Linked DNA regions of Homo sapiens: region 1 is linked to region 2. Evidence: fine-mapped expression QTL. A gene starts in region 2. The other region holds a variant in brackets. All regions are shown on one strand. Distances are between the middles of the regions.

Evidence for each region. PIP is the estimated chance that this variant, and not a neighbour inherited with it, causes the effect. A credible set is the group of variants that fine-mapping cannot tell apart.
Region 1: its variant is the best candidate, but not a certain one, in a credible set for the expression of TGM5 in monocytes (Quach 2016, PIP 0.51).

What each region holds. Positions count from the first base shown.
Region 1 is chr15:43,292,661-43,296,660 of GRCh38, forward strand. It overlaps TGM7 (transglutaminase 7), which reads right to left. Exons shown (of 13, transcript NM_052955.3): 2 at 789-971; 3 at 49-294. Among named protein-coding and RNA genes, the nearest start is that of TGM7, 7.6 kb to the right of the region's middle. The variant T/A (reference allele first, on the strand shown) is at 2,049.
Region 2 is chr15:43,264,675-43,269,143 of GRCh38, forward strand. TGM5 (transglutaminase 5) reads right to left here and starts at 2,254. Exons shown (of 13, transcript NM_201631.4): 1 at 2,166-2,254. The coding sequence starts at 2,175. It also overlaps the pseudogene ATP5PDP1.

The sequences.
Region 1 (4,000 bases), 28 kb after region 2:
CCTTCCCAATGGATCAGGTTAGCAATACAAGCTGTGGGCACATCCTACCTGGACTCCAAGGGTTAAAAAGTAGGATGAAAGTTCCCAGCGGGTAAGTCACACTGTGACCTTGGCCCTGAGAGATCTCTATTTTCAGAGTGTAATGGCCAATAACTGCATTGGCTGGTGTGAAAAGGGAAACTTGGAGAGAGTTGGAGTCAATGGTGAAATCAGAAGCGCTCCAGACATTCCCGGGCTGGACCCGGGTGAGGAAGAATGTGGCTCGGGTCCCCAGCAGCTCTGACGGCTTGGGTCCTGTGTAGGAGAGAATGACCCCACAGTGAGGCTCAAAAAACCTGTATGGTATATGATTCCAGGGGAGTCGGAAGGACCGTCACCTTCTCCCACCACCTGCTAATGCTTTTGGCTTTTACTGCCACCGAGTGTCCTCAGGCAAACCATTTAAGACCCCCAGGCCTCCGTTTTTTAATCTGTTAAAAGGGGATCATAATAGTACCACCTGAAAGTCTTGTCCTGGGGATTAAATGAGCTAATGTGTGTAAAGTTTTAGCACAGTGCTTGTTGTGTATCTACAGGTCGGTTGTTAACTGCCACAACCTCAGTTTGCCGAGTTGACCAAATCTCTCCTTAACAGCACTAACAGGGTCCTGAGCATGAGGGGTCTGGGGCTCCCAGGACAAGAAAGTGGAGGGCAGCTCAGGTGGGAAAGGCAGGGGCCCCGCAGGCAGACTCTGTAAATGCCCTCATTTTGACGGAACCTGCGGGGCCTTGGGACAGGGCAAACTCACCGGTCTCAGCCACAAAGGTGATGTGGTCGTTCTGGGACTGGAAGGGTCGGCTGAAGCTCAGCCGGAGGTAGAAGGGCTGGCCGCGGCGCACAGTGAGCCGCTTGACGCCCATCTCCTGCGTGTGGTGCTCCTTGTTGTTCCTGGAGCTCTGCAGGTCGACAGACTCAAGCCGCAAGGTTGCCACTAGGGGAGAGGAGGGGACAGGTCACGCCCACCTGCAGTCCCCTGGGCTCAGGCATCCCTTGTGGCTTCTCAGTCATTTCTGGGAGGTGCGGCGGGTGGTGGGGCGTGCGGGGGGTAGGTGGGGCGTGCGGGGGGGGAGGTGGGGTGTGCGGGGGGGGCGTGCGGGTGTGTGTGTGCGGGGGCGTGGGGTGTGCTGGGGAGGGTGGGGTGTGCGGGGGGGTGGGGTGTGCTGGGGAGGGTGGGGTGTGCGGGGGTGGGGTGGGGTGTGCGGGGGGCTGTGCGGGGGGAGTGGGGTGTGCGGGGGGATCGGCATGGGGAAGTGTTGATACTGGTGAATTCCATGTCTGGACCTGGAGCCACAATGATCAAGGATTGGGGTCCCCAAAAGGGAAACAATTCCAGATAACCGAAACTTAACCCCTGAAGTGCCGCTGCATGCTCTTAACTATTTGTTGACAATCTTTCTAAAAGTCACCCTTTTATCCTACTGATATAAGAATAAACATACTAGGATTTTGTATGAATTAAGTCAGTGAGCTGACTGGAAGCTGGGACTTCAGCCATAGGGCAAGTCCCTGCTTTGGAATTCTGGACACTCTCTGGGTCACTTGTAACTTACTTCTGACTTCTCAGCCATTTCCAGGTCTATGAGGAGGGCACTGCCTGCTTCCTGTGTGTGCACACCTGGTACATGGTTGTAAAACTCTCATAGCACAGTAGGCAGTGGGCAGGTTCTGGACTGACACAGCCTCAGGTCTATCATCTGGGCTGTGAGACCTCGAGCAAGTCACTTAATATCCCTAGACATCAGTGTCCTCATCTGAAAAATGGAGACAATTGTATTCCTACCTTATAGGGTTCATGTGGGCGTTAAGTGAGGATGCCCATGGAAGGACCTTGGCGTTGTGCCAGGTACAGAGTAAGGAGTCAATATTAGTTACTCTTACTGGTAGGAATCATGCGTTCTTGAATTGCATTTCTTTTGCGACCTTTGCTGGCAATGTTTAGATTGCATTTACTGTCGACAAAAGTTCATCAGGTCTTTCCTCTAGTAGTACATCAGTTTATCTCAGTGGT[T/A]CTCAACGGGAAATTCCGTGCCCTGGAGGACATTTGGCAATGTCTGAAGACATTTTTTACTGGGAAGAGAGGCTGCTAAGCAGCATCCTAAAGGAAAAACTCATATTTGCTCCCAGCCAGTTTTTGTGCCATTTGTATTTTGAACTTCCACAGAGGTTCTTAATGTTTTTGCATCTTTCCTACCTATCTTGATCCTTTTTTTTTTTTGGAGACAGGGTCTCACTCTGCAGCCCGGCTGGAGTGCAATGGCATGCTCCTGGCTCACTGCAGCCTCAGCCTTCATTCTGGGCTCAAGTGATCCTCCCATCTCAGCTTCACAAGTATGTTGGACCACAGTTATGGGCTACCATGCCCTACAGTATTTTTTTTGTATTTTGTAGAGACAGCATCTCCCTATGTTGCCCAGGTTGATAGATTCTGATTTTTTGACCCAAATATTTTACTTTTCCATCTCTAGACTGGCTAAACTGTCTTCCAGTCTTCATCTAAGTAATCAGTAATAAGATGTTTCTAAGCATTAGAGCCTAAGTTGGTGGCCAGTTGTGTATCATCAGCTCTTTCTTCCATGTTAACACTGAGCCATTAAGAAATACTCTTTGGGGCTGGGCACCATGGCTCACGCCTGTAATCCCAGCACTTTGGGAGGCCAAGAAGGGTGAATCACTTGAGGTCAGGAGTTCGAGACCAACCTGGCCAACATGGTGAAACCCTGCATCTACTAAAATACAAAAATTAGCCAGGCCTGGTGGTGAGTGCCTGTGATCCCAGCTTCTTGGGAGGCTGAGGCGGGAGAATTGCCTGAGCCCAGGAGGTAGAGGTTGCAGTGAGCCAGGATTGCCCCATTGCACTCCAGCCTGGGTGACAGAGCAACTCCATCTCAAAAAAACATAGAACTAGAAAAAAAACTCTTTGGGCATAGCTGTTCAACTGCTTTAACTACATCTAATCTTTGAATAAAGCTGAAGTCAATGTTAATTTCCTTCACAATCTAAAATCAAATCCAGTTTTCATCTTTTCCATAAATGTGTCAAATGTCTGGCTAAAAACAGAATATGCATAAGGATCCCTTGATCTGTCTCTTAACAACAATCTTTTGTAAGGTAGATTCAACAAAGGTGAATTACTGGATCAATTGGTACAAAGTTGTTAAACCTCTTGATGTGTTGGGGCACTTAAATAGATATGTTATTGGAACCAGAAAATTTAGAGAAAGATCTAAGACAGATCCCTTTTAATCATTCAACAGCAGTTTTTAAACTTCAGTTCCAACTCATTTAGTAGTTTGTGAAATCAATTTAGAGAGAGGTAGCCTGTAATAAGAAAATGGAATGGAATAGAAAACATACAATGCATCACACATAGGAAGAACAAGGACAATTTTATGTGTAGCTAGGTCATGATATAAATCATAGATCATAGTTAAAAGTCAGAAAGCAGCCGGGTGAGGTGGCTCACGCCTGTAATCCCAGCACTTTGGGAGGCCAAGGCGGGCAGATCACGAGGTCAGGAGATTGAGACCATCCTGGCTAACATGGTGAAACCCCTTCTCTACTAAAGATACAAAAAATTAGCCGGGCGTGGTGGCGGGCACCTGTAATCTCAGCTACTCAGGAGGCTGAGGCAGGAGAATGGCGTGAACCCGGGAGGCAGAGGTTGCAGTGAGCCGAGGTCACACCACTGCACTCCAGCCTGGGTGACAGAGCGAGACTCTGTCTCAAAAAAAAAAAAAAAAAAAAAGTCAGAGAGCAGCTGGCCTCAATCTGGTTGGGAACTGGTTGCTTCTCATTTGTTCCTAAGGGGCCTAAAGTTTTCATAGCAGGACCACTGAGCCTTCACAGAAAGCCTCTCCGTCCCATACACAACTCCCACCCTGAATGATCATAGATCCAAAAGAGACAGGGACACACAGGAGGGAACAGGACTCAGGGTAGCCTTTTCCTGGCTGCTGTTTG
Region 2 (4,469 bases):
TCTGAAACTAGATAGTGGCGATACTCGCAAAATTTTGTGAGTATATGAAAAACCACTGAATTGTGGACTTTATAAAGCTGAACTTGATGGTATATGAATTATATCTCAATAAAAGTTGTTATAAACAAATATGAACCAAATTGACTGTGCCAAAATACCCTAATAAGTATTACACTTTATGTTAAATCTCTTTGAGTGCTTTTGATTACTTTAACACACATCTGTTTCATAAACTAGTTTTTTATTATTATAAAAGAAATTAAGCATAATGATCAGCATATTGTAGGTACTCAGATTTGCTAGGTTGAATAGAATTCTCTATCTTTTGCAAAATCACCCTGTACGTATTTCAGATTTCAGATTTAATCAACATCTTATTGAGGGCCTATCTACTATGTGCCAGGCACTGTGCCAGGTACGCTAGGACAGTTATCTCATTTAATCTTCATCGCATCCTTGCAGGGACAAAATGTCATGTCATCCACACTTGGAGATGAGAAAATCAAGGTTCAGGTGGGTTAAATATCTCGTCTAAGGTTAAACCAGGATTCCTGAGCCCAGTCCAGTGCTCTTCCCATCACCCCCAAGAGCTGTTGCCCACTGTTGGCTTTCACTCATGATCAAAAAAATGTCCACACCCACTGCCAGCTAAGAAAGCACTTGGCTTTTACCTAACAGTGGAAAAAGAAGCTTGCCCCCTTTGGAGACCAATTTATTAGACAGCACTAACTGGCTACAGTTCAGGTTGGGCACATGACGCAGGCTACTCAGCAGGCATGGCAGCATCTGCCTGGCAGCAAGCGCTGGGACAAAATTCCATCCTCTAGAGACATCCTGGGCCATGTTAATCTCTGCCTAAGACAGGAATGACTCTTCAGCCCAGGTGCCATCTATTCAAATAGGAGGTTCATTGACTACTGGGCATATTTGTTTTCCTTGAGGTGAGAGGAGAATGGGGTGAGATGATCAGGAAATAAACAGAAGACTGTAGAAAGAACTTTTAAAGTAAGTGATCTTAGTAGTTATCCTAGAGAGACACTCCCACGTGAGCACACAGAGGCATGGATAAGTATGTTCCTTGCAATATTGCTTGTGTAACCGGAAAATTGAAAACAACCTAAATGCCCATCAATAGGGGACAGGATTAGAAATTACTTGCACTGATACTATGAGAAATATTGAGGTAGATCTATAGGTACTGACTGGCATGGACAGAGCTCCCAGACATACTGTGGAGTGAAAAAAATCAAGTTGTAGAAATATACATACAATATGATGATACCATGGATATACCAAAAAAGACCACACATGCTAATCCTATGTATTACATTGAGTAAATGTATGTCTGAGTGTAAATGTGCAGACAAAAGACAGGTAACAGTGTTTACTCTGGAGATGAGGCTGCCATTGGGGATGGCGGGCAGAGGACTATAGCTTTATCTATAATTATTTATTTATTTTACTCCAACTATGTATTCCCATATTTCTTGTGCAATTAAAAGTTATGAAAATTTTAAAACAAAAATTTAAACACAAAAAGTAATAAATAAAGGTAAGGTTGTTACAGTTGTAGAGGAAGTTGAAAGCTTATTCCTCTAAATGATTTCAACTAACGATTTAATCTTCACAGCAACTCTTTCCAGAGTGAGGGGGATGATATAGAGAGAAGGTTGGTGATGGGAAGATTAGCTAAGATCAGTAATAGACCTTCTGAAATGGAGGAAGAAGAGAAGATATGAAGATTCAGAGAACTTAAGAGCTGGAAGACAATTTCAAGATTGTCTGGTCCAATCCCTCCTTTTTCAGGCAAGGGGGTTGGAAACTAGAGGCGAAGTGACTTGTCCAATGTCAAAGGGTCAGCTAGTAGCAGAGAAGGACAGAAACCCTGACCCCCTCATCTCTGGCCCTGCCCTGTCCCACCTGGCTATGGAGGCAGGCATGTTAGCAAGCAGCTGTGTGCTGTGTTTACCTGTCTGCCTCTACGCTGTCTCCTGGTTCTCAAGCCACCAATGAATACTGAGGTTTCTGGGATTCTTGCTTTTCCTGCCTCAGTTCTGTATTTACTTCTTTATTTCTCTGAATCCACCCTCCACCCCTTGACTTCCTACAGTCTCTCTCTGTCCTTCTTATCCCTGAACTCCAGTGGCCACAGGGGCTTTCCCTACCTTGGGCCATGGTAGCTGCCTCCGGTTCCTGGGATGCTCCCCACAGAACAGCTGGGCGGTCTGGAGCTTCAGCAAACTGGTGCCAGAGTGTCTACTTCCCCTTCCATTGGAAGCCTCCAGGAGAACCGAAGGCGGGGCTGGACTGCTGCACTGCCACCTGATTACCGAGCAGATCACAACTGGTTTGCTCACTTGCCCTCAGGTTTTTCTTGGCAGTGTTGCTGAATTGAAAGGAGGTGTGGAGGCTGATGAACTGTCACAGCCTTATGCCGTGTGGGCCTTTGATAGCTCTTGAGCAATAGGGCATTCCCAGGGAGGTGCTGTGCTGTGGTGGAGAAGTCAGGAGGGAGAAGCGAGCTGATGGGCCCGCCAGAGGGATGCAGGGGGCTGCTGGAAGGAGCATCAGGGTCCCAAGACTCTGCTCACAGCTTAAAGCACCTCATTGAGCCGAGAACCCTGCTAGGTAACCAAGGCCTCTCTTTTATCCTGAAAAGTCACTTCCTGAACATTAAATGCAAACAGAACCCTCTCTGTCTGGATCTCCTTCGGTATGATTTCACTGTATTTAGCTTTGGCAGTGGCATTGTCTTGCATGAGACCTGGCAGGTCCAAGACAAATCACAAATAAAAGCAAATAATCACAAATAAAATAGAGGAAGAAAAATTGGGAAGATTTGTGGAGGAGGTGTGGAAATAGGTGAGAGGGTGGGAATGCCGGTGAGCAAGGGCCTTGATCCTAGTAAGAAAGGCACAAGCCCTTTCATAGGGAGAAAAGCGCAGGTGGAAGGAGAGAGAGGGCAGGAGGGGGAAGGGCTCTGCCTGTGGAGTGGGTGGGACCCCCATGCCTACCCTGTCTTTCTGTGCTCTGGGGCACTTCTCCCCACATCCCCTGCTTTCTGGGTCCTTCTCCCTGGGGAACCTCTTTCACCAGCATTGTCCTCCCTCCTGTATTTTCAATTCTCTCTGTCCCCACTCAGCTCTTTTTTAAAACCTATGTAATTATTTTTATTTTTAATGTCCAGAATGTGTACTATAAGGGCCAGGGCTTCTTCCTGGACTTAATTTTATAAATTCTTGATTGGTTGGTGAGACCAATAGCGATACTTTTTCTTGTCTAATTTGGTTTCCGGGAAAGCTTCGTTCAAGTCGTCAATGGTCATCTGATCAAATGGTATTAAGTTCCTCATCTTCTCCAGCTGTTTCTCATATTCTCCAACCTGGCCTTTGAGAGAGACACCCACTCAGCACAAGTTTTCCCATCTTCTTTTTCTTCAGCATCCACCTGGGCAGTATATTTATCCTCTGGTACAGGAAGCTTCAGGACATTAAACTTCTTCTCAAAGTCATCCACCAAGCCTGCCTTGGCCACATTGGCCTTGTAGTAAGTCCAGTCAATAGCTGGTGGATTCTCAGGTAAAGTAGCCAGCCTGGAGGTGAGGGTCTCATTCCAGGATTTCAGATAATTAGCAATGGCCTTTTGGTTTTGGGGTATCATCTCTGCAAAAGCTACCCAGTCAATGGTTTTTAGAGCAAGTTTTCACCCAGCCATCTTGGTATACTTCACTGACCATGGCAGCCCATGGCCCACACCCCACTCACCTCTTATAGGGTATATGTGCACAAATGCAGTTCACTATTTTAACACAGCACATCCACCTTCAACTCTCATCCCCAGCTTCCCTAGCAGCCCCTGCCCTTTCTCTCAACTCCACTTCTCAGCCAAGCTCCTTGCCCACTGCTTTGCCTCCCACCACCCCTCACCTGCTGCAGACTGCCTTCTGTCCCACGGCTGCCTCGACGCCACGCTCACCTCCCAGCTCTGAGGGCTGGGCTCTGGGCGCCTTTCCTGCTCTTACCCTGCAAGGCCTCCTGCAGCCCTGCGGGTACTGTCCACTCCTCCTGGGCTTAGGTGACTTCTCTCTCTTGGTTGTCTAGCTGCCTCCTTATCCCCACTGTCCTCTTCCTCTCAGTCCCCATCACAGACTTTCCCTTCTTGAACTGGTGCCTCCCAGGGATTTGTCCCCATCTCCTCTCTTCTCACTCCACTGGCTCCCGCGTGACACTGGGGACCCCCAGAACTGTGTACTGCGGCACCCTCTGCTGGACAGCTCCTCTGGGGGAAACCTTGGACACTTCACAGCCAAGGAGTCCAAATGGAACTCTTCCCCTTGCTCCTTCCTCTCAAAATACCTGCCCTTCCTCTTGCACGTCTGGTCTTGATGAGTGAGGACACTGTCCATCCATCACTTCAGGGGACACCTGCGTGCCACCTTGTACTTCTCCAGCTTCCTGATCTCCCTTTAG